Linked DNA regions of Homo sapiens. The protein of the gene in region 5 purifies or fractionates together with the protein of the main gene of each other region. This does not show direct contact. Each region holds a gene or a part of one and is shown on either strand. Other genes may lie near its edges.

Region 1 (3,500 bases), on a different chromosome or scaffold from region 5:
TCATCCATCCATCCATTCATTCAGTAGGTAATATGTGGAACCATAGGAAATTGATGATATTCCAGTTTTTGACATACAAAAATAATTTTGATTGAGTACAAAGGCCTTTTGTATTTGCATATGTCTTTCAGACAAAGCTCCAGGCAGCATAGTGGATGTGGTAACTAAAGCCATGGTCCCTAGCACAGCTGTCCTAGAGCTGCAGCACACCTTTAGGCTTTGTAGGGAAATGGCCTGGGCCAGTCAGAATCAGGTCGTCTGTCTGCAGGAATTAGTTTAGGTCTTACTAGCTCTGACCAGGTAAGACCTAAACCCTGGTGGGTATATGGGTTAGTCTTAATCTGCTTGGTACATATTAAAGCAATTTTTAAAAATGATTTGTTCAATGTATTCATCAAGTGCTTACTGTATGCTATGAACTAGAGTAGCTAGACAAAAATTTACCCTCCAGGAGCTCACAGACTCCAGACTATGACAATCTGTCCCATTTCTGCATTGCCTGTGTTTTCAGATAATTAATTTTTTTTTTTTTGACATGGGGTCTTGCTCTGTCACCCAAGCTGGAGGGCAGTGGCGCACTCTCAGTTCACTGCAACCTGCGCCTCCCGGGTTCAAGCAGTTCTCCCACCTCAGCTTCCCAAGTAGCTGGGATTACAGGGGCATGCCACCATGACTGGCTAATTTTTGCATTTTTAGTAGAGATGGGGTTTCACCATGTTGGCCAGGCTTGTCTTGAACTCCTGACCTCAGGTGATCCACTCCCCTCACTCCTTTTCCTCAGCCAACACCCTGGACTCTTACTTTCCACACTCTCCCTGCAATCATGGCAACGGGACCCATAACTTCTCTACTGCCTGAGTGCCCTGAGCCCTAACTCTGGGTCCAGACCTGATTTCTTTCCTTTTTCTTTTTTTTTTTTTTTTTTTGAGACAGAGTCACGCTCTATCGTCCAGGCTGGAGTGCAGTGGCGCAATCTCAGCTCACTGCAACCTCCACCTCCCGGGTTCAAGAGATTCTCCTGCCTCAGCCTCCTGAGTAGCTGGGATTACAGGCGCACACCACCACACCCAGCTAATTTTTGTATTTTTTAGTAGAGATGGGAGTTTCACCATATCGGTCAGGCTGGTCTTGAACTCCTGAGCTCCAGTGATCTGCCCACCTTGGCCTCCCAAAGTGTGGGATTACAGGTGTGAGCCACCGCGCCTGGCCCAAACCAGGCTTTTGAAAGGAGATCCTTTTGCTGGTCTGCTCCTGAATACTTCTTATGATGGGTGTGTGCTTGTCTGGAGGTATGCGTGTCTGGAGTTTTCTAGAAATAAGAATTACATATGAATATACATGTCTGTCTCGTGCGCATGCATATTCAAATGTAATTGTTAAGTGCAGTAGTAAAACAAGACCCTTTTGCTAATAGTTTGGGTTTTCTTCTTTTTTCTTACTCACATGGTAAAGAAAATAAGCAGCAGTACTTACTGAGCACATATAATGCCAGAGATTATACAAGGCAGCCAATACAAGTTATATTATTTATTCTTCACAACACTCCATAGAAGTATATCTTATCTCTGTTTTCTCGATCAGAAAATCGGCTCAGAAAGGTTAAGTCACTTGCCAAGGTTATACAATAAGGGGTAGTCAGGATTGCGTTGGGCTCCAAGCTTACACTCTATCCCCTACAGCCAAAGAATACCACCTTTAAAAAAATACAAACAGAAAAGGTCTTTACCTCCTCCACCCACCATAGCGAGAATCTTTGTGATTGTGTGGTTAGAGGTCATCCATGAGCGAGTTTATGTGGATCTGGGGAGCTCAGATTGCCGAGTACAAGTGTGCTGTGTGTAGGCTTCTCTCGGAGCTCTCCTCTGCATGTGGTGAAAGTGTGTGCGACAAGCTCTGCCCTAGGAATGCAGGGGACTGTGCTCAGGTCTTAGCTGTGCTGCTTTCTGGCCATTAGCAGTGGACAAATCACCCTATGAGTCTTGGTTTTCTTCCTTTTGAAATGGGAATTAGCCATTCCTCATGTATGTATTGAATGCCTGCAATTAGCTAAACTCTGTGCTAGCCACGCCCCTGTGTGATACCTACAGACCAGACAGCGGTTCCTGCCATTAAGGAATCTGCCATCTTATGACCAAGCCAGATAGGTAGCAAGTAGCTACAATGTCCTGTGTTGAATTCCACAGGAGTAGATGGAGGGGGACTTAAGGTAGCCACAGGAGGGGCAGTCAGGAAAGCGTGTTGGAGGAAATGCTGTTCCCAAGTTGTTGCTGAGGGTCATATGGAATCATGCATGTGACAGTGAGTGTAAATGGCAGAACTTTTTACAGATTCGAGTTGGCATTGTGTTTCACTTTTTTCTGACAGTTTTAATGACCTTGGCTCATAGCACTCTTCTCCAACTAAGGTTGGCACAGTAATTTTAGGATACAAAGATACAATTAACTCTATTAGTTTGGTGGTGGTGGTGGTGGTGGTTGTTGTTTTGAGATAGGGTCTCAGTCTTCACCCAGACTGGAGTGCCATGGCGTGACCACAGCTCACTGCAGCCTTGACCTTCTGGGTTCAAGTAATCCTCTCTCCTTGGCCTCCTAAGTAGCTGAGACTACAGGCATCTGCCGCTGTGCCTGGCCAATTTTTTACATTTTTCTGTAGAGACAGGGTCTCATTATGTTGCCGAGGCTTGTCTTGAACTCCTGGGCTCAAGCAGTCCTTCTATCTCGGCTTCCCAGAGTGTTGGGGTTACAGGCGTGAGCCACCACATTCAGCCTAACTCTTATTAGTTCTACATTGCTACCATGATAATCTGGAAGCCTGAAAATAGTCTGTTTTTTGAGACTTCCCTGAGCAAACATGACTATGAAGAGCACTACTTTCCTCCTTTTCCTTTGCAGGTGTTACAGCACATGAAGGCCGTGCAGGCAGATCAGGAGCGGGAGAGGCAGCGGCGGCTGGAAGTAGAACGTGGTAGGTGGCTGTCCCTCTTGTAGTTATCTTTCAGGTCCTCATCCCAGCCAGTGGATTCTCATGCTTCAGGAGCTGGGATCCAGTAGAGTAGTCATGAAGAACAGTTAGTGGGCGGTGGGGGGACAGTATTGTGGTGGATGGTATCGTCTTTATCTGATGAATCTCTCTTCAGTCCTGGCTTCTCTGCTGTGCTCTAGAGGCAGTCAACTGCTTATATTTCATCTCTGCTTGGAGGGTTAATAGGCATTCATATGAAATGTGGCTAAAACAGATTCCTGATGGCCCTTCAGTCCCTCCCAGTGTTCCCTGTAATAGGAAATCACTTTCCCTATAGTTATTCAAGCCTAAAATAGGAAAGATGTTAATGACTCCTTTTTTTCTGTAATTCCCACATCCAATCTGTCAGCAAGTCCTATGTGGGACTGTTTCTCCAGCTCCGGTGCCATCTCTAACCAGCCACCATTCTGGGACCATCACAATGCCTTCCAGCATGTCTCCATGATGCTGCCATCTCCTTAAACTCATTCTCTTCACAA
Region 2 (2,441 bases), on a different chromosome or scaffold from region 5:
TCCTTGAAGGGGTCCCGCACCAGCTGCTGCCCCCGGAGCCACCCTCGCCTGCCAGGGCCCCTGTCCCATCTGCCACCAAGAACAAAGTGGCCATTACAGTGCCTGCTCCACAGCTTGGGCACCACCGGCACCCTCGTGTGGGAGAGGGGAGTTCTTCAGATGAGGAGTCTGGAGGCACACTGCCCCCTCCAGACTTTCCACCTCCACCACTGCCGGACTCAGCCATCTTCCTGCCCCCCAGCCTGGATCCTTTACCAGGGCCAGTGGTCCGGGGCCGTGGTGGGGCTGAGGCCCGTGGCCCACCACCTCCCAAGGCCCATCCAAGGCCTCCACTGCCCCCAGGCCCCTCACCAGCCAGCACTTTCCTGGGGGAAGTGGCCAGTGGGGATGACCGGTCCTGCTCGGTGCTGCAGATGGCCAAGACGCTGAGCGAGGTGGACTATGCCCCTGCTGGGCCTGCACGCTCAGCGCTCCTCCCAGGCCCCCTGGAGCTGCAGCCCCCCCGGGGACTGCCCTCGGACTATGGCCGGCCCCTCAGCTTCCCTCCACCCCGCATCCGGGAGAGCATCCAGGAAGACCTGGCAGAGGAGGTGTGTGGAGCAGGGTGGCTGTCTGTGTGTGCCTGAGTGTGCTTGCCCACAGACTGGTACCCTTTCACTCCACCATTCAGCACTCATGGTGTCCCTGCTACCCTGAACTGATCACTGGGAAGTTGGGAGACACATGTATCAGCCCAGCCCTTCCCTTCCTTTTCCCCAGAGCATGCAGCAGAATGTGACTGCAGGTGTTTCTATGGGGGGCACTCAGCTCCCCCTGACATGCCCTGTTTCCTTAGGCTCCGTGCCTGCAGGGCGGGCGGGCCAGCGGGCTGGGCGAGGCAGGCATGAGTGCCTGGCTGCGGGCCATCGGCTTGGAGCGCTATGAGGAGGGCCTGGTGCATAATGGCTGGGACGACCTGGAGTTTCTCAGGTGGGGGAGGGGCTGGCCCCGGGGGCGGAGCTGGGGCCCTCAGGATCCCCTTGCCCATCTCACTTCCCAGCCTGTTTTACTCCACAGTGACATCACCGAGGAGGACTTGGAGGAGGCTGGGGTGCAGGACCCGGCTCACAAGCGCCTCCTTCTGGACACCCTGCAGCTCAGCAAGTGATAGCGGAGGCACCACGAAGCTGTGAACTCAGAGCCCCTCCCTGCTACCAAGGCCCAGCTATGGCCCCAGGGTTGAAAAGTTATGAGGGTCAGGGCAGTATCTCTCTGCCTATTTATTGGGGTGCCTATTTATTGGGGATCTGCATTCCCCGCTGCCCAATCATTTGCAATGCCCTAATTAGGGCATCCTGCCCCTCGCCTTTTAGGCTCAGGACGGAAGGTCAGTTGCCATGGTTACCGAGGACCCTGGTTACTCTGGTGCTGTCCTGTTTTACTGGACCCCGCCTCCCAGCCCCAGGGGTGCCTGTGGGGGTCCATTTGGGTACGTCTGGGCCCCCACTTTCACCAGTTTCTGCGGCCTTCCACCGGGCCTGAACCACAGCGGAGGAGCTCCGCTAAGACCTCCCCACCCCCGCTGGGGGTGGGGGCGGGTGTCCGTCCGGAAATGAAGGAATAGCCCGAGGACCGGGCTGGGGTTTATTTAAACTGTTCTGTGTGGGTCTGGGGAGGGAGAGCACCTTAATATTATTGGGGTTGGTTGGGGTGGGGCAGGATCTCAGCCATAAAGTGCCAGTTTGCTTAGTTCTCACTGTCTCCTGGTCTGTGCTGCCCTGCTCTGGGGATGCACGGCGGCAGGGTGGGGGAGGGAGGTTCCTCGCAGGTCTCAGCCCGGGACAGGGTCTTGCAAGCAGCCTCCTGGGCAGTCGTAAGGGTTGCGGCGTGATGTCTTCAATAAATTAAGTTTTATTTGGATTGAGTAAAACTTCAATAAATTACAAGTTTTTCAAAGAAAAAGGACAACCAAAAAAATTAGGGAAAGAGAATCCCTCTGTCCCATTCCCCAGGCAGCCCCTCCACTCCTCTAACAGGTCCACCCTCTGTGCCAGACGGGCTAGGGAAGAGAGGAGACACGTGAGGGATGAATTGGCGGTGGTCATTAATTATCCCGGCGACCACCAGCCTCTGTACGGGTGGGCCCGAGGGGTGGGGCAGCGGGCTTTCCTGATCACCAGCGTAAGGGGTGACCCAGCCGCTGCAGAGCCAGGGAAGGGGGCTGTGCCGATCCTCCTTGAGGACCTTCACTTTGAGGGCACTGTTAGGGACAGGCCTCATGTGATACCGCATCCAAAGAAGGCCAAGCTAGAAGGAGCTCCGGGGTTCTCCTGGAGGAGGTCCCGGTATAAAGAACTCCGCTCTGCTGGTAGAGGGTGGGTGAGGACGAGAGTGGCCCTGACTTGGTCTCCAAAGTTGGGGAGGACACACCGAGGGGTGAGACAGTAGGGAGTGGAGACGGA
Region 3 (3,500 bases), on a different chromosome or scaffold from region 5:
CCCTTACTGAACACCTAACACTGAGAAGGCTCTGGGCTAAGTGTTGATGCATGTAGGGAAAAGTTACGGAACACTGGGCAGTGAATGAGCACAGAAATAATGTTCCTTCTGCTTAATATGATACATTTACTGCATACTTATTGTCTCAGTTTCTGTGCTCAGTGCCTTAGCTACTTCATATCATGTACTCCTTACAACAATTGTATGAGGAAGGTATTAATATTAATCCATATTACACATGGTGGAGGAGACTCAGCCAGAAGTGGGCTTTGGGAATTCAACCAAGATTGTGTGCTAGGAAATGGCAGGAGAGCTTCCGCACCAGGCTGACCGGCCCCAAGGTCTTGGAGCAGCCTTCGGATGCCCTGTGCTCTCCTTCCGTTTGCCTCACTCTTCCTGCTGCTGCTGCTGCTGCTGCTCTAGTATCCTCTGCTCCCTCATTACCCAGGAGGCAGTGGGGGCAAGGAATGGAAGGTAAGTGATGGGTGGGGTGCTCTTTCTCCACTTTGCTGCCCTAAAATGGCCGTGCCTTCAGGTCATGGATTATATTCATGCCATTCAGATTCTTTCACATTTTATCTTTAGCCTCAAAGATTTCCTGATTGCTCAAAACTATTTATATGACAGTCAATTTGCTCAACTCTTCACTGATTTTTCCAAAACTAATTTTGAGATTAGTCATAATTATGTTGCCCCCATCTGACTGAGGATCTTATCTTGTGACTGACAATGCTTTTGATATATTGTGAAAGCTTTACCCTTTAAGGCAGCAATTCACAGTCTGGCCCATAGACCTTGCTGTCTCCTGAGACCCTTTCAAGGCGTCTTTGGGGTTAAAATCATTTTCATTCTAATTCTAAGATGTTATTTGCCTTTTCACTGCATTGACATTTGCATTGATGGTTAAAAAATAACAGCAGATGAAACTTTTGGCCATTGTCTACTCACAGTAAAACAAAATGTATATTTCACCCAATAATATCCTTGATGAGGCAGTAAAAATTATTAATTTCTTAAAATTGTGATTCTTGAGTATGTCTTTTTAACATTCTCTGTGACAGATTGGGAAAAAATACATGAAGCACTTTTGCTCCATATCAAATTGTAATAATTGTCTTGAAAAAAAAGTTTTTAAAAAAATATTTAAGAATTCAGTTTAAAAATTAAAGTTATTTTAAAATTATTTTTTAAAATCACATAATGCAAAAAATTCTTAATGAACAAAATATCAGTACTTTAAAGACAAGATTCAATTAACACTTTCATGACTATGCTACACTTGGCCCACCTGGACCTGGTGTTGCAGGAATTTTCCTAAAGTTCAGCTAAAGATGGGGTCCTTGTCCATCCCACAGCCATGAAAATTCAGGCTCACAGATGGTTTGAAGGGTAAGTAAAGCAGGGCTTTATTGGGTGAAAAGGAAAAAAGAGGGGAAACAGGGACTCTCAGCGAGGCCAGAGTTCATCTAGAGCACTTCCGGACCGCGCCCAAATCCCAGGTTCCACACAGGAAGAGGAGGGGCCAGGCTCTTCCCTGCTGCAAGTGGCACAAACTTCCGCAGCTCCACCCCAGTGCACAGGCCAGTTGGAGTTTTTCTGGGAACCCCCTCCCCTCTGGCTGTCTCACTGGTTCTAATAAAGCTTTATTTACAGAGATAGTCAACCTGTGAGCTGTAGTTTGCTGCTTTGATTTTGAGTTGATATTTTTAACATATTGCCTTAAAATGTTACTTTGATTACTGAGTTTTTTGGCACCCTCTTAAATTTTACCTCCAAGGCAAGTGTGTCACTTGCCTTAGCCTAATCTCAGCCCTGCATTGTCCTAAGAATTTTAGATGTATTAATATTACTAGAGAATAAATCAAGAAATGACAGTGTTCAAATGCATGAAAGCATAATTTTGAAAACTGCTCAAGTATGAATAATTCCATCTGTTCATATGTGTGAAAATTTAACTCAACCCTGTGGAGATGGAGTTTTCTACCTTAGGAGGGTCCTGTAGGATGGGTTCCCAGCAGACTTGATGCCCAGTCTGTAGGCAAGAAGCAGAAATAAACCATGTGGAGGGCCAGCCCCACCTCAAGAAGTGTTTCTAACCTGGAAACCCAAGGAGCATAGGGGACGGTGCACAGCATTAGAGTGGTAAAGAAAATGGTTCAATTCCAAATTTTCTGCCAATACCCAACTTGACCCATCAATGAACCTAAACTGAATCAAAAGCTGCAGAGTACATTCCTATTACCCAAACTAACCTCTCCCACATAAGCTAATTCCCTCTTGGGTTTCCTCCCATGGATTGTGTTTAACAATAAGGATAGAGTAATTGGCAGAGCTAAGGCCAATTACACAGGAGAGACTAGGCGTTAGCCCCCCACTCCTGCCCCCACATAATGGATAATGTAGACATTCCCCAAGTTACACAGTCATTCCATTCAGGAGGCTGTTGTGCAGCTCAGATTTTAATTTGAATCCAAAATGTTTGAATGCATGTGCTGTATATTGCAATAATACCACATATGTAACTGCAGGCATTATGCAGAAATAACACAGATGTTTGCAGCAAGTAGAGACAGTGTGAGACTTGCTGCAATCACTGCTACCTGCTCTGTTCTTCCAGTAATACTAAGCTGAGTAATGGCTCCCAAAGACATTAGGTTGTCCTCCCTGGAACCTATAAATATTATCATATTTGGGAAAAGGGTCTTTGTAGATGAGAGTAAGGATTTTGAGATGGGGAGATAATTCTGGATTATCTGTGGGCCTTAACTGCAATCACATGCATCCTTATGAAAGTGGCAGAGGGCGATTTTGCTTACACAGAAGAGAAGGCACTGTGAAGATGAAACAGAAAGAAATTTGAAAATGCTGATCTTAAAGATTTTAGTGATGAAGCCACAGCCAAGGAATGCCGGCAGCCACCAGAAGCTGCAAGATACAAGAAACAGATGCTTCCTTAAAGCCTCTGCGGGGAGTGCAGTTCTGCTGACATCTTGATTTTAGCACAGTGATTCTCATCTCAGACTCTGGCTTCCAGAACTGTGAGAGAATAAATTACTGTTGTTTTGAGATACCAAGTTTGTGGTAATTTGTTACAGCAGCCATAGGAAACTAATGTACTAAGTCTGTAAAATCTTAAAATGGAACCCTTTGCATAAGGCTGAGAATGAGTCAGTCTGAATTAGGGGAGCATCTGTAAATCTGTAATGATGCAGGACTTTTTGTTTGTTTGTTTGTTTGTTTGTTTTTTGTTTTGTTTTTTGAGACGGAGTCTCGCTCTGTTGCCCAGGCTCTGGAGTGCAGTGGCGCGATCCCAGCTCACGATGCAGGGTATTTCTTAAGGAGATGTGTGCATGTCAGTGTGCTTTGTCCCTAAACCTTACAGCTCCTTATAATTTACTCATTGAGTCACCAGATATTTACTAAGCACTTCCTCTGTATAGTTCTGCTAGGTGTGGATATTCAAAGACATAGCGCAGTGCTCAGAATTGAGCAGAAATCCA
Region 4 (2,975 bases), on a different chromosome or scaffold from region 5:
ACCATTGGCCAGGCCTTCGAGTTGCGCTTCAAACAATACCTCAGGAACCCACCCAAACTGGTCACCCCTCATGACAGGTGAGCAGGTGGGGAGAGTGTGGAGCAGCTCTTGGATTAGGATTAGGAAAGGAGGGCTGCTCTTCCTACACTTGAGTTGAGAGGTTCAGGGAGGGAATAACCTGTGTGCCTCTGCTTCCCACTTCCTGCTATTCTTCTGTTTCCTGTGGCCCAGGAGGAAAGACTTTTGAGGCCCTGCTTGCCGCAGGACCAGCTTTTCTTGTTTGCTCATGGTGGAGTTGTAGTCCGGGGCCTCCAAGTTACATCTCTCTCTGGCTAGGTGGGATTTTCTACTCCCATCCCTCTTTCTTGCTCATTTCTCTGCTTGGCATTATGTGTTTTCCTGCCTCTAGAAGCCATCAAGAATTTGGGTTTGGGAGGATATCTCTTTTCCCTGAGATTACAACCTTTCCCACCTCAGGCCTTGAGGGATAAGCAGTGGAGCCAGTAGGGATTGAATATTTAGGAGAGGTTAAAATATTCTGGAGCTGGAGTGCCTCCCCCGGCCCCCCACCCCCCTACATGGTGCTTCCCTTCCTTGTTGGGAGATAGCACAGAGATCAAGAGCAAGAGCATTACTTATTTGAGACAGTCTTGCTCTGTAGCCCAGGCTGGAGTTCAGTGGTACAATCACAGCTCACTGTAGCCTCCATATCCTGGGCTTGAGTGATCCTCCCACCTTAGCCTCCTGAGTAGCTGGGGCTACAGGTGCATGCCACCACACCTGGCTGAGTAGTAGTATTTTTATTCTGGTAGAGATAAGGTCTCGCTATGTTGTCCTGGCTGGTCTTGAACTCCTAGGCTCAAACAACCCTCCCTCCTTGGCCTCTGAAAGTGTTGGGATTATAGGCGTGAGCCATTGCACCTGGCCAAGGGGATGAGCTTTAAAGTCAAACCTGAATTTAAATCTGAGCTCGGCCGCCTTTTAGTTGTGAGACCTTGGGCAGATCTTTTCACCTCTGACCCTCATTTTCCTCATCTGTAAAAGTGGGGAAGGAAACAATACCTACCTTACGGGGTTGCCAGGAGAATGAAATGATTATGTATATAAAACACTCAGCCTCAGGCTTAATCCATAGTAAATACCCAATAGATGGCTGCTGTTCTATTCTGTCCTTCCCTCCTCCTGCCCACCACACATTTACAGCCACAGCTTCACTGTCCTGTCCCTCAGGATGGCTGGCTTTGATGGCTCAGCATGGGATGAGGAGGAGGAAGAGCCACCTGACCATCAGTACTATAATGACTTCCCGGGGAAGGAACCCCCCTTGGGGGGGGTGGTAGACATGAGGCTTCGGGAAGGAGCCGCTCCAGGGGCTGCTCGACCCACTGCACCCAATGCCCAGACCCCCAGCCACTTGGGAGCTACATTGGTAAGTTGCTTGGATGGAGGCGGGCTGGGGCTAGGGTGGGAGTGGTTGGTTAGGGCTTCTGGTCTCACCTTATTTTTATCCCTGCAGCCTGTAGGACAGCCTGTTGGGGGAGATCCAGAAGTCCGCAAACAGATGCCACCTCCACCACCCTGTCCAGGTATGAAGGGAGCCGAGATAGGCAGAGCTGGGGAGTGTTGGAGGCAGGGCTGGGATCACTGTAGAGCCTCCCTTTCCTCAGCAGGCAGAGAGCTTTTTGATGATCCCTCCTATGTCAACGTCCAGAACCTAGACAAGGCCCGGCAAGCAGTGGGTGGTGCTGGGCCCCCCAATCCTGCTATCAATGGCAGTGCACCCCGGGACCTGTTTGACATGAGTGAGTGCTCGTCTCTCTCCTCTCTGCATCCCCACCTTTCTACTTGGTTCTGGCCCTTCTCCTGCCTATCTGCTCTTTCCTTCCTGACTTCCCTTCCCTGAAGTCTGGGTCTTGGGTGTGTGTTGTGCCTGCTACTTCCCCTCACCCTCCCTCTATACTTCCAGAGCCCTTCGAAGATGCTCTTCGCGTGCCTCCACCTCCCCAGTCGGTGTCCATGGCTGAGCAGCTCCGAGGGGAGCCCTGGTTCCATGGGAAGCTGAGCCGGCGGGAGGCTGAGGCACTGCTGCAGCTCAATGGGGACTTCCTGGTACGGGAGAGCACGACCACACCTGGCCAGTATGTGCTCACTGGCTTGCAGAGTGGGCAGCCTAAGCATTTGCTACTGGTGGACCCTGAGGGTGTGGTGAGTGTGGCAGAGGTGTGGGTGAGGGGTGGCAAAAAGGAAGGTACAGTACCCTACAGTGTATCCCTCTTCCTTCCCTCATTGCTTTGTAGACATTCCCGCTGGGCAGCTGTCTATGGGCCTCTCTTGCTCTTTAAAGTGTCTGGCATCTTCCTCCAGAGGCTCATCCCTTAGCCTGAACTATGTTCTTTATAGTCCTGGCACAGGGCCAGGCGTGGTGGCTCACACCTGTAATCCCAGCGCTTTGGGAGGCTGAGGCAGGTGAATCACCTGAGGTCAGGAGTTCGAGACCAGCCTGACCAATATGGTGAAACCCTGTCTCTACTAAAAATACAAAAATTAGCCGGGTGTGGTGGCAGGCACCTGTAGTCCCAGCTACTCAGGAGGCTGAGGCAGGAGAATTGCTTGAATCTGGGATGCAGAGGTTGCAATGAGCTGAGATCACACCACTGCACTCCAGCCTGGGTGACAGAGTGAGACTCTGTCTGAAAAAACAAAACAAAACAAATACAGTCCTGGCCCGTCCTCAAATCCCCAAGCCTTAAGCTTATCAGAGCTAGAAGGCAGTCATCTCATCTGTGCCCCTCTTTTGACAAATAAGGAAACCACCCTGAAGAGGTTGTGATGCCCAATGTCAGATGGTTAGAGGCTAGACACTGCAAGTTTCCTTTTGTAAGAAGATCCAAGGGCTTCTCCAGCTCCCCAGACTCAGGACTCAGACCACTGTGCTTTCTCTTATCTGCACTGCCTCACTGTTCTTCAAAACTTTC
Region 5 (3,500 bases):
ATCTCAGCTCACTGCAACCTCCGCCTCCCAGACTCAAGCGATTCTCCTACCTCAGCCTCCTGAGTAGCTGGGACTAGTAGCTGGAACTACAGGCGCCCGCCACCATGCCCGGCTAGTTTTTTCTATTTTAGTAGTGACGGGGTTTCACCGTGTTGCCCAGGTTGGTTTTGAACTCCTGAGCTCAGGCTCAGGCAATCTGCCTGCCTCAGCCTCCCAATGTTCTAGGGTTACAGGCATGAGCTACTGTGCCTGGCCCAGTTAGTGATTTTTAAATTGTAGTTCCTTAAATGAGTATTTTGGATTTCACTCCACAATGTTCTTCAACTGTAAGATCTACTTGAGGTTATTTGATTTGCTGGTTTGCAAGAACTCGTCTACACGTTGTCTTTATCACAAAGAAATTCTGGAGCGTTTGAGCCCTGTTCAAAAAAAAAAGGCAAGAAGAAACTTCAGGAACAAATAACCTATTTGACCCTGTAATGAATAATATTCACACATTTTCTAATTTAAGAGCTGTTGATTGATTTCCAACTTTTAGAATCTGTTTCAGACAAAACATGGAAGTTTAGTAACAGTTTTTTCTATTCTGTAATAATAATTGCCACAAGGTTAAAAAAAAAAATTTACAGAAGAACATATTTGAGGGTGGTCGTGGGGGCAAGAAAGCTGGAAGGACGGGTGGGGTGTGTTAATAGCCTTGTCTTGTGAAGTAAGTCCTCAGAGACGCTGTCCTAGTTGGAAGAACAGGCAGTGAAGGTGTGCGTCTGTTACGGAGAATAGGACTCCAGTGATCTAGCTGGTACTTAGAGAGGTGGGGGTGATCACCAAAAAAACAGCTCTGCCTCTGGGAGCGGAGAGGACTGGGATAGAAAGTATTTGTCTTTCATTTTAAGCCCTTCTGTACGATTTGACTTTTCTTTTTTTTTTTTTTTTTTTTTTTGAGATGGAGTCTCACTCTGTCACCCAGGCTGGAGTACAGTGGCACGATCTTGGCTCACTGCAACCTCCGCCTCCCAGGTTCAAGCAATTCTCCTGCCTCAGCCTCCCAAGTAGCTGGGACTACAGGCACCTGCCACCATGCCCGGCTGATTTTTGTATTTGTAGTAAAGACAGGATTTCACTGTGTTGGTCAGGTTGGTCTTGAACTCCTGACCTCATGATCCACCCCCGGCTTTTTTTTTTGACACGGAGTTTCTCGTTACCCAGGCTGGAGTGCAGTGGCGCAATCTCTGCTCACTGAGACCTCCACCTCCTGGGTTCAAGCGATTCTCCTGCCTCAGCCTCCTGAGTAGCTGGGACTACAGGTGTGCGTCACCATGCCCGGCTAATTTTTGTATGTCTAATGGAGACAGGGTTTCACCATGTTGGTCAAGTTGGTCTCAAACTCCTGAACTCAGGTGATCCACCCACCTTGGCCTCCCAAAGTGCTGGGATTACGGGCGTGAGCCACCATGCCCGGCTAAAGCAAGAAATTTTCATTGCATATTTTAAGCAAAGGCAAATGCATATGTGGATAGACTGTTTTAATTTGACTAAAGTCATATTGAATCCATGAATTTTAGAAGCTCAAACTATTGGGGAACAATAATTACCACCTTGGAGTGAAAATACTTAATTTCCACAAGATTTAGTAAAGGAAGAGTTTTTTAAAAACCACCTTAATGATAATAGTATGTACAGATGTTAAGAAATGAAATAGGAATGTGTAATGTTGGAAACACAAATATTTTTGCTTCTGAGAATAAAACTAATTTTTTCTCCCAATTTTCTCTTCCTTTTTCTTTTTTCTGTTCCCCCCTTTCTCTTCCAGAAGCCCTTCAGCGGCCAGTAGCATCTGACTTTGAGCCTCAGGGTCTGAGTGAAGCCGCTCGTTGGAACTCCAAGGAAAACCTTCTCGCTGGACCCAGTGAAAATGACCCCAACCTTTTCGTTGCACTGTATGATTTTGTGGCCAGTGGAGATAACACTCTAAGCATAACTAAAGGTAAAAGGGTTGTGGGCAGCTAGTGGTGGTTGCAGGAGATAGAAATCTGGGAATTGCGGTTTGACCTACCACCCTTTGCTCGTTAAAGGAGCAGCTTTGAAATCTGGACTGCAGGGATATCCAAAACAACAACTGCATGTTTCTAAGGGAGTCGACTCTCCTTAGAGGAGTTCTTGTACAATAGCCCTGGGCAAAAACAGAACTTGCCCTATTTTTTATACTGAAAAGGACAGCTGGACAAAATACTGAACGCAATTTTTCCCCTAAGAAAAAGCATTATTTCCCTAAAATGTCTTATATTAGGAACAGAGCACTTGAATAAACATAATTGATTTATAAAAACTGAGGCTATACACTTACCTATCTGTTCAGTACAAACAGGAAGCTTCAAATGTAAACGTGAATTCTCATACACTTATAAATGCATATCTTTATGTGGACTTGTTAAAATGAAATTGGTATTTAGGAATTTGGAGATTTTTAGTAGTTACACAAGAATCAATGAAAAAGAACGAAGCTGGTTTCCAAAGCTGATATGTCTGATTTGGTTCCTTTCTTCTCAGGTGAAAAGCTCCGGGTCTTAGGCTATAATCACAATGGGGAATGGTGTGAAGCCCAAACCAAAAATGGCCAAGGCTGGGTCCCAAGCAACTACATCACGCCAGTCAACAGTCTGGAGAAACACTCCTGGTACCATGGGCCTGTGTCCCGCAATGCCGCTGAGTATCTGCTGAGCAGCGGGATCAATGGCAGCTTCTTGGTGCGTGAGAGTGAGAGCAGTCCTGGCCAGAGGTCCATCTCGCTGAGATACGAAGGGAGGGTGTACCATTACAGGATCAACACTGCTTCTGATGGCAAGGTAGGGGACCCTTGGCAGGGGGCGCTGATGGGCCCAGGGCAGGGGAACCAGAGGTCCTGCTGTCGGATTGATAAATTATTGCAAGAAAGCTCAACCAAGAAGATGTTTAAAGAATCTTTCAGGTGGGAGTCATTCCATTAGCCTTATGAAGACCCTTTATTGAGGATCCGTTCTGTGATATTACAAGTTCCTGGGACTGGTATGATTCTCTTATTGTCTTGCTAGAGTTTTGTTGTTAGCAAGTTACTTAAAATAGGAGGAATATCTGTTGGGTTTTGGACACATTTTTTACAATAAGATTCTTCCTTTAAAAAAAATATTTTATAATGATAGAAATCATCCCCAACGAGAAAAATTCAAATAATAGATAACCTTTCTTAGAGCGAAAGACCACTTTACTATCCCCTCCCCCACAGACGCCTGGCACGTGGGCTTCTTCCTGCGGATGAACACATTCATGGAGAGGTGTGTGGACATACGTGCATACACGCATGCAGTTTTCAGTGAAAACCGGGATCAAACCCACAGCTTACCAAACCCAAAGTGTGGTGTTGTAAGGGAGGTGGCCTATATGATTTTGTGGTCTTCATATAAATAATCCTTAAGAGTCCATAAAGAGAAGGGAGGAGTTAACATTGACTGAGGTATTGCTATAAT
Region 6 (3,500 bases), on a different chromosome or scaffold from region 5:
TGGGAAAATGATTAGAGACCAGAGGTCAGGAGACCTGAATTCTGTTCCTGGTGCCTCCCTGACTCAGTATTTTGTTTGTTTGATACGTTAGAATGAAAGCTCCCAGAGGTTTCTAAGGACAGCACAGTTTGAGCATTGGCTTTGTAAAAGTACTCTGGTGACCTGTGGAATTACAGTTATAATCATCATAATAATGTCCAATGAAGAGGCATACTGAGGAAGGCATGAGAGGAATTTTAAGTGGCTAAACTCTATTTGCATTATTCATTTTACAAATTGTTTCAGAGCCTTAAAGCAAATTTCAGTATGCGGTACTTTAGATGCAAAATGCTCCTCTAGGACTTTCATAAGTTACACACAAGTATCCCTTAAAGTATATTTCAGAAATATGCTTGCAGTGCATCAACTCTATCTGATGAACTTTGAGATGATCACAATTAAGGGTGATAGAGATATTTTAGGGATTTTTTTTCTCATTGGGATTCAAGAGGGATTTAAAAGTTTACTAACCTGGGCCAGATGCAGTGGCTCACACCTGTAATCCCTGCACTTTTGGGGGCTGAGGTGGGTGGATCACCTGAGGTCAGGAGTTTGAGACCAGCCAACATGATGAAACCCTGTCTCTACTAAAAATACAAAAAATTAGCTGGGCATGGTGGCGTGCACCTGTAATCTCAACTACTCAGGAGGCTGAGGCAGGAAAATCACTTGAACCCGGGAGGCAGAGGTTGCTGTAAGCTGAGATTGTGCCACTGTACTCCAGCCTGGGGAGCAAGAGCAAAACTCCATTTCAAAAAAAAAAAAAAAAGTTTACTAACGTGGTGTCTACTTGTCTCCTTCCTGTTATGTCTTCTTTCTTTGGTTTCTTTCTATCTTTTTATGAGGGAGAGTTGAGGGATGAGTGCTTAGTTAGGAGGCAAGGAGATTCAAGGACTCAGGCTTGGAAATTTACACCTCTGTGCCTTCTCTCCCACAGGTGATAACCCCCGTGAGGACAGGCCATGGCTACGTATACGAGTACCCATCCAGATACCAAAAGGACGTCTATGATATCCCTCCTTCTCATACCACTCAAGGGGTGCGTACCAGAACATGGTCACAAGAGGAGAAGCGCTTCTAAGGGTAGCATTCCTTCAGGGCTGTAGAGAAAAGGGAGTTCACAAATTATGCATTAATATATGTCATATGAAGCTTTGTTTAGGTTGTCTACCCAGTAGCCACTTTAGCCAATGCTATTTAAATTATGTTTTCTGGATTTGCTTTATCAGGAAATCCTAGTATTTCACCCAAGAGAGCTTATGTTCTTCTACAATTTTGCTTCAGAAAGTAGATTTTTCTTTTTTCTTTTTTTTTTTTTTAAGACAGAATCTCACTTTGTTGCCCAGGCTGGAGTGCAGTGGCTCTATCTCAGCTCACTGCAACCTCCACCTCCCAGGCTCAAGCAACTCTCCTGCCCCTGCCTCAGCTTCCCAAGTAGCTGGGACTACAGGCACACACACCACCATACCTGACTAATTTTTGTATTTTGTAGGGACAGGCTTTTGCCATGGTGGCCAGGCTGGTTTTGAACTCCTAACTGCAAGTGGTCTGCCCACCTCGGCCTTCCAAAGTGCTGGGATTACAGGTGTGAGCCACGGCCCCCAGCTGGAAAGTAGAAAATTTAAACTACACTTTAAAGTACAGACAGCGTAGATATTTCACATAAGATCTTTTTTTTTTTTTTTTTTTTTTTTTTTGAGACAGAGTCTTGTTCTGTCACCAGGCTGGGAGTGCAGTGGCACGATCTCAGCTCACTGCAACCTCTGCCTCCCGGGTTCAGGCGATTCTCCTGTCTCAGCCTCCCAAGTAGCTGGGACTACAGGTGTGCACCACCACACCCAGCTAATTTTTGTATTTTTAGTAGAGATGGGGTTTTACCATGTTGGCCAGGATGGTCTCGATTTCTTGACCTTGTGATCTGCCCACCTCAGCCTCCCAAAGTGCTGGGATTACAGGCGTGAGCCACCGTGCCTGGCCAAAATCATTTTTATATTAAATGTAAGTTAAAAACCATAAAATGTATTAAAAAAAAAGGCAATAAATCTGTTATAACATGGAGCACTGCCAAAGATCAAGCTTGTACATAACCTGGTAAATAAATCCATAATTAAGTGCTTAGGAGCATAAAAAATGACCAAGTATAAGACATTTCCATTCTGGGTAACTCACGGGTTTCTCTTCAGGTATACGACATCCCTCCCTCATCAGCAAAAGGCCCTGTGTTTTCAGTTCCAGTGGGAGAGATAAAACCTCAAGGGGTGTATGACATCCCGCCTACAAAAGGGGTGAGTGAGTGACTACAAAGCAGCAAAAAGGAGTGTGTGTGTGTGTCTGTGTGTCGGGGGGTGCAGGGTTGGGAGGGTGGGTAAGTAGTTCACTCGAATAAAACAAGAAAGGCAAACCCAAAAGGGGAAAATGTAGTCTTGGTGAGAGTAAAGGAAGGAAGCAAAAAAGGAAAGGCACTAATTAAAGATAGCTCTAGGGATTTCATATTGAGAAGCCCCAACTAAAAAACACTAGGTGGCCAATAAGGATAACCCTTTGGCAGGGAAGATAATTAGTTCAGTTTGGCAAGTACTAATATATATTTGTAGAGGGTTTGTTTTGTTTTGTTACATTTTGTTTGAGACAGGGTCTCGCTCTGTCACCCAGGCTGGAGTGCAGTGGCGCAACCACAGCTCATTGCAGTCTTTACTTCCCAGGCTCAAGCAATCCTCCCACCTCAGGCTCCCAAGTAGCTGGGACCACAGGTGCACGCCACCATGACTGGATAAATTTTATTTTTTGTAGAGACGGTGTCTCCCTATGTTGCCCAGGCTTGTTTTGAACATATGGGCTTAAATGATCCTACTACCTTGGCCTCCCAAAGTGCTGAGATTACAGGCTGAGCCGCGCCTGGCCTGTAGAGGGTTTGACAGTTTCCTCAGTGTGTATGTTTGAGTGAACTCGTTTGACTCACTCTGTTACCCTATGGGGTATGCCTGCACAGGAGGCACAGTAATCCCTACTTTACAGACAAGGGGACTGTGTTTCAGACGCCTATGCAGCTCATTCAGCATCACACAGCTGGTGTGATAACCAAAAAGACCGGGGGAGAACTCTGGTCTTACTCTGCCTCTCGGCACAGATCAGCAGAGAAAGGATACCCAGGAGGTGGTCAGAAACACAGGACTGGAAACACAGGGTGAGCAATTTAGCCAGGAGGGTTGTACATACGAGTCTGCACCAAGAACGTGGGGTTGGACACACTTGGCAAAGGACAAGGGAAGTGACAGCAGAATAACGGGGAACCTTGGAAGTGCCTAACATTGGGGCGGGGGAGGGCGACCGAAAAAGTGCCAGCAAATAGGACTGAGCACATGGGACCACAGGTTCCCATGAGCCAACTCAATAAATAGCATTTCGCTTTCTACTTGCTTTGCAGGTATATGCCATTCCGCCCTCTGCTTGCCGGGATGAAG
Region 7 (3,500 bases), on a different chromosome or scaffold from region 5:
TTACTTATTTTAGGTATGTTTCAACTTCCAACACATTTCAATCATTCAGTGCTAAATATAAAATAATGAGCAATTAAATAAGATGAGCTTAGATAGCCTACATTCAAGCAGTAATTTAGAGAGTAATTAAGGCACAAAGAGACACTAACATAATAAATGTAATCAAATATTCTTATTGGTCTTTAAAACTGATTTTTTCAGAACAAGTCTGCTTTTTAAAATGATTCAAATTATTTTCTCTTATCCCATCCCATTATCTATACTGACTATATTTCTTAGTTCCCAAGGAAGAAGACAGTTTCACACTGGATTTGACTTCACAGAAACACTGTAAGATTAAGACATTAAACCCTGAGTGAAGGAATTATTTGCAAATGGAAAGAAACACTTAAAATTTTTAATAGTGTTTTCCTTGAAATAGAAGTTATTTTCTCCTCAAGTTAGTACTATATTTGCATTTGTAATTTAAAAATTATTTTTTAAAAAAGCTGACAGGATTTATAACTGAAAAAGAAGTAAATGTTCTAGAGTTCAGTATGCCATGGTATATCTTTCGTTTAAATAAAATATGGAAAAGGTTATATTAATAAAGAAAAGAAAGAACTACATTGATAGAGAAACTAAAAACCATGTTTCATGAGGCTACATTTAGCACTCCTCTCTCTTGGTAGTGAGTAGTATTTTTAATGATGAATTTTTCACCATTAATTGTCTTTCTCCAAAGAAATGGAAAAAAGTAAAATATGTCTTTTTAGAGGGAATAGCTTCTCTCTTGGCCTCAATTTTCCTTTGCTTTTTTTCTCTTTCAAGCCTAGGAAAATTTCTAGGGCAGTCCAAACATCAGCTTGGGGAAAAAAGGTCATATTGCAGAGCTCTAGAGTTGGGAAAGAGACTTCCGAGTCTAAGGGAAATAACGGACGGCTCCTCGATTTTAATGCCCCACCTTCACCTGTTTCTCCCTCCAAAAAAGAAAATAAACAAATAAAAATAAAAGGAGACTGAAATTCATATACCTGAGAAAATAATTTGAAAACAAAATGCCATTAGAGGACACTAAATAAAATGTAAAAATAAAGAGAATTTATTCTTACATTTTGTGGTTGTGAATTTTAGTTTTCTTTATAAAATGTGATGAGTTTTGTTATTTGATTATACATACCGCCAGAAATTCTTTAAGACGGTCTTCAATGCTTCCTTTGTGAATTGTAAACAAAGCTGCAGCAATCTGGTTGATGGCTTTGGCCAAGCAATGTATGTTGTTGCAATGCCCTGAGAAAATGCAAATAGGGTTGTGTAGACCCCAAAATAGCAAATAATACATAGAAGGCAAATCTTTAATGACTTCACAATCTGCATAAATAGGGGCATAATTAAGAGTAGAGTTGGGACATGACCGGACTTGCTCTCCTTTGACTTTCATGAACACTGATGTTTTTAAAACTAGTTTAACAGGAGAGTAACAAACGATCGTGTATATGTTAAACAGGCAAACACTTCTGAAAACATCTAAAAGAAATCACACATCAGTTTTATAGTAGCTCGGAAATAAAAAGGAAGTGCTTAGCTGCTTTACAACATTTTACCATTCAATCCTTAAAATAATCCTATGAGTTGGATAATCCCTCACCGACCTCTACACACATTCAGGCACACATGAGCTTACTTACACACATTTCATATATCAGGAAACTGCAGTTTAGGAAAAGGGAAACAGACTACCCCATGTTCCACTGCCAGTTAGTGGCAGAACTTAACTCATATTTTATTATAAAATACCAAAACCCATGATTTATTCATCGCCAAAACAATTTTAAACCACTATTACCTTCTATAGCAGGGCTGTACTGAGACATCACATTACTGGCCAGTGTTGGCAAAGAAACTGCCACAAACACCATGAGAAGGCAGGCAATTTTATACTCTTCTTCTGGACTAATGTTTTCTAAGAGACAAAAATTAAGAATAAAATCAAGGTATTTCTTCAAGATTAGTTAAGATTTGATAATCTAAACTAAACAGATTTTTATTTTAAAAATGGTTTACTTTTTTTTTTGAAATAGTAAACTATTTTACTAGCATTCTATAGAATTGGTCACAATTTTGTTATAAAAATATAAAGTAGAAACAGTTTATATTACAATGGACTATTATCAACTACTTAGGCATATTTCAAGGACGTCTGATAAAACAGTAAGGTAAGATTTTATTTTTTTTAATTGTAAGATTATAGAACAAAAAATACAGTTAGGATAACTGCAATCCTACAATTTCCTAATTGAAAACTAATGAGGAATTATTACTTTATGAGACAGTTCTATTTACAATTTAGAAAACTTATAAATTATTCTGCAAAATCACCAAAAAAATCTTAATTACTTTTTGAAAGAGATATGAATATAATTTGAAATTTACTATTTAAAAGACATAAATGTGGAAAGTGGAATGGGTTTTCAACCTCTCTATTTTAGAAGACAGAAGAAACTAGTCATGAATAAAAGAAGACAGAAGAAGACAGAAGAAACTAGTCATGAATAAAAATACCCAGCATTGCTCTAAAGCTTTCAAGACATAACCCTTTCTAAAACATTTATTGTGATATGCACTCAAATTGTGGGTTATTTAGGCTACTAATCACCATTAGATATAATTAAGAATTGAATGTAAGAAAAGAGCTGAAATATGTTTTAAAGATTTGGTCGACTACAAAAAATACAGCTGTAGCAAATCAAGTAATAATTATAATTATCCATGTGACTAAATGTAACATACTGTATGAATGAGGAAACAAAATTGCATTGTTAAATGAAAAAAAAAAAAAAACTGATGAACTCAAACACCATGCTGCTGCCTCAAGGAGGCAGAAGGGGCATTTTAGTAGTAGAAAGAGATGAAATGCTATATTTACTTTGTAGACAAATCAAGAAATATCTACAGGATTCTGAGTACTGCATTTCTAAGGGCTGGTCTTAAAAATTTCTAAATGTTTTATATAAAACTCTTGATGGTGAATAACTCTAGTACAATAAAAACAGAATACCCTTTCCTAGATCTCAATTTTTTGCTATCTACTGGACCATCTCCCATTAGCATACAAATGCTGTAATCTCCTCCATCTTAAAAAAATCCTTCTCTTGACTTTGCTCTTGCCTCCAGCTGGTGAGATTTTATTTCTTTGCTTCCCTTTACAATAGAACTCTTTGAGTTGTCTTCTAGTTATCTCCAAATCCTTTCCTCCTGTTCTCCCTTAATCTCCCTTACTCACTACTCAGCCTTTTGCCCATAAAACCTCACTGACACTGATCTTGTTAGTACCACCAATTAACTCTACATAGCTGATCATTTCCTTTCTATCTTCCTGGAAGCTACCCTTTCCTGGTTTTTCTTCTACTTCATTGGTCCTTTCTTCTCAATTTCTCTAAATTTCTTTTTTCGTGGTTTTTCCTTTTCTCCCTGAGCTCTTAAATCTTAGAATGGCTCAAGGCTCAGACCTGGATCCTCTT

The links.
Region 1: the proteins of ABL1 (region 5) and LRRC59 purify together in Homo sapiens (affinity purification with mass spectrometry; one large-scale study listed by BioGRID and IntAct). This does not show direct contact.
Region 2: the proteins of ABL1 (region 5) and INPPL1 purify together in Homo sapiens (affinity purification with western blotting; 2 studies listed by BioGRID, with this or other methods). This does not show direct contact.
Region 3: the proteins of ABL1 (region 5) and STON2 purify together in Homo sapiens (affinity purification with mass spectrometry, with the first as the bait; one large-scale study listed by BioGRID). This does not show direct contact.
Region 4: the proteins of ABL1 (region 5) and SHC1 purify together in Homo sapiens (affinity purification with western blotting; 5 studies listed by BioGRID, with this or other methods). This does not show direct contact.
Region 6: the proteins of ABL1 (region 5) and NEDD9 purify together in Homo sapiens (affinity purification with western blotting; 2 studies listed by BioGRID). This does not show direct contact.
Region 7: the proteins of ABL1 (region 5) and NCKAP1 purify together in Homo sapiens (affinity purification with mass spectrometry; 2 studies listed by BioGRID and IntAct, with this or other methods). This does not show direct contact.

What each region holds. Positions count from the first base shown.
Region 1 is NC_000017.11:50,387,524-50,391,023, reverse strand, and holds part of LRRC59 (leucine-rich repeat-containing protein 59), read left to right. Parts: intron 1-2,891; coding exon 2,892-2,964; intron 2,965-3,500.
Region 2 is NC_000011.10:72,237,207-72,239,647, forward strand, and holds the end of INPPL1 (phosphatidylinositol 3,4,5-trisphosphate 5-phosphatase 2), read left to right. Parts: coding exon 1-590; intron 591-835; coding exon 836-969; intron 970-1,056; coding exon 1,057-1,147; 3' UTR 1,148-1,941; downstream 1,942-2,441. UniProt on the Homo sapiens protein: Phosphatidylinositol (PtdIns) phosphatase that specifically hydrolyzes the 5-phosphate of phosphatidylinositol-3,4,5-trisphosphate (PtdIns(3,4,5)P3) to produce PtdIns(3,4)P2, thereby negatively regulating the PI3K (phosphoinositide 3-kinase) pathways.
Region 3 is NC_000014.9:81,390,325-81,393,824, reverse strand, and holds part of STON2 (stonin-2), read left to right. Parts: intron 1-3,500. UniProt on the Homo sapiens protein: Adapter protein involved in endocytic machinery. Involved in the synaptic vesicle recycling. May facilitate clathrin-coated vesicle uncoating.
Region 4 is NC_000001.11:154,964,773-154,967,747, reverse strand, and holds part of SHC1 (SHC-transforming protein 1), read left to right. Parts: coding exon 1-77; intron 78-1,203; coding exon of another isoform or gene 1,204-1,230; coding exon 1,231-1,429; intron 1,430-1,516; coding exon 1,517-1,586; intron 1,587-1,667; coding exon 1,668-1,802; intron 1,803-1,966; coding exon 1,967-2,205; coding exon of another isoform or gene 2,206-2,379; exon of another isoform or gene 2,380-2,462; intron 2,463-2,975. UniProt on the Homo sapiens protein: Signaling adapter that couples activated growth factor receptors to signaling pathways. Participates in a signaling cascade initiated by activated KIT and KITLG/SCF.
Region 5 is NC_000009.12:130,852,254-130,855,753, forward strand, and holds part of ABL1 (tyrosine-protein kinase ABL1), read left to right. Parts: intron 1-1,810; coding exon 1,811-1,984; intron 1,985-2,547; coding exon 2,548-2,843; intron 2,844-3,500. UniProt on the Homo sapiens protein: Non-receptor tyrosine-protein kinase that plays a role in many key processes linked to cell growth and survival such as cytoskeleton remodeling in response to extracellular stimuli, cell motility and adhesion, receptor endocytosis, autophagy, DNA damage response and apoptosis.
Region 6 is NC_000006.12:11,191,169-11,194,668, reverse strand, and holds part of NEDD9 (enhancer of filamentation 1), read left to right. Parts: intron 1-976; coding exon 977-1,078; intron 1,079-2,222; coding exon 2,223-2,324; intron 2,325-3,463; coding exon 3,464-3,500. UniProt on the Homo sapiens protein: Scaffolding protein which plays a central coordinating role for tyrosine-kinase-based signaling related to cell adhesion. As a focal adhesion protein, plays a role in embryonic fibroblast migration.
Region 7 is NC_000002.12:182,926,958-182,930,457, forward strand, and holds part of NCKAP1 (nck-associated protein 1), read right to left. Parts: intron 1,943-3,500; coding exon 1,826-1,942; intron 1,270-1,825; coding exon 1,160-1,269; intron 1-1,159. UniProt on the Homo sapiens protein: Part of the WAVE complex that regulates lamellipodia formation. The WAVE complex regulates actin filament reorganization via its interaction with the Arp2/3 complex. Actin remodeling activity is regulated by RAC1.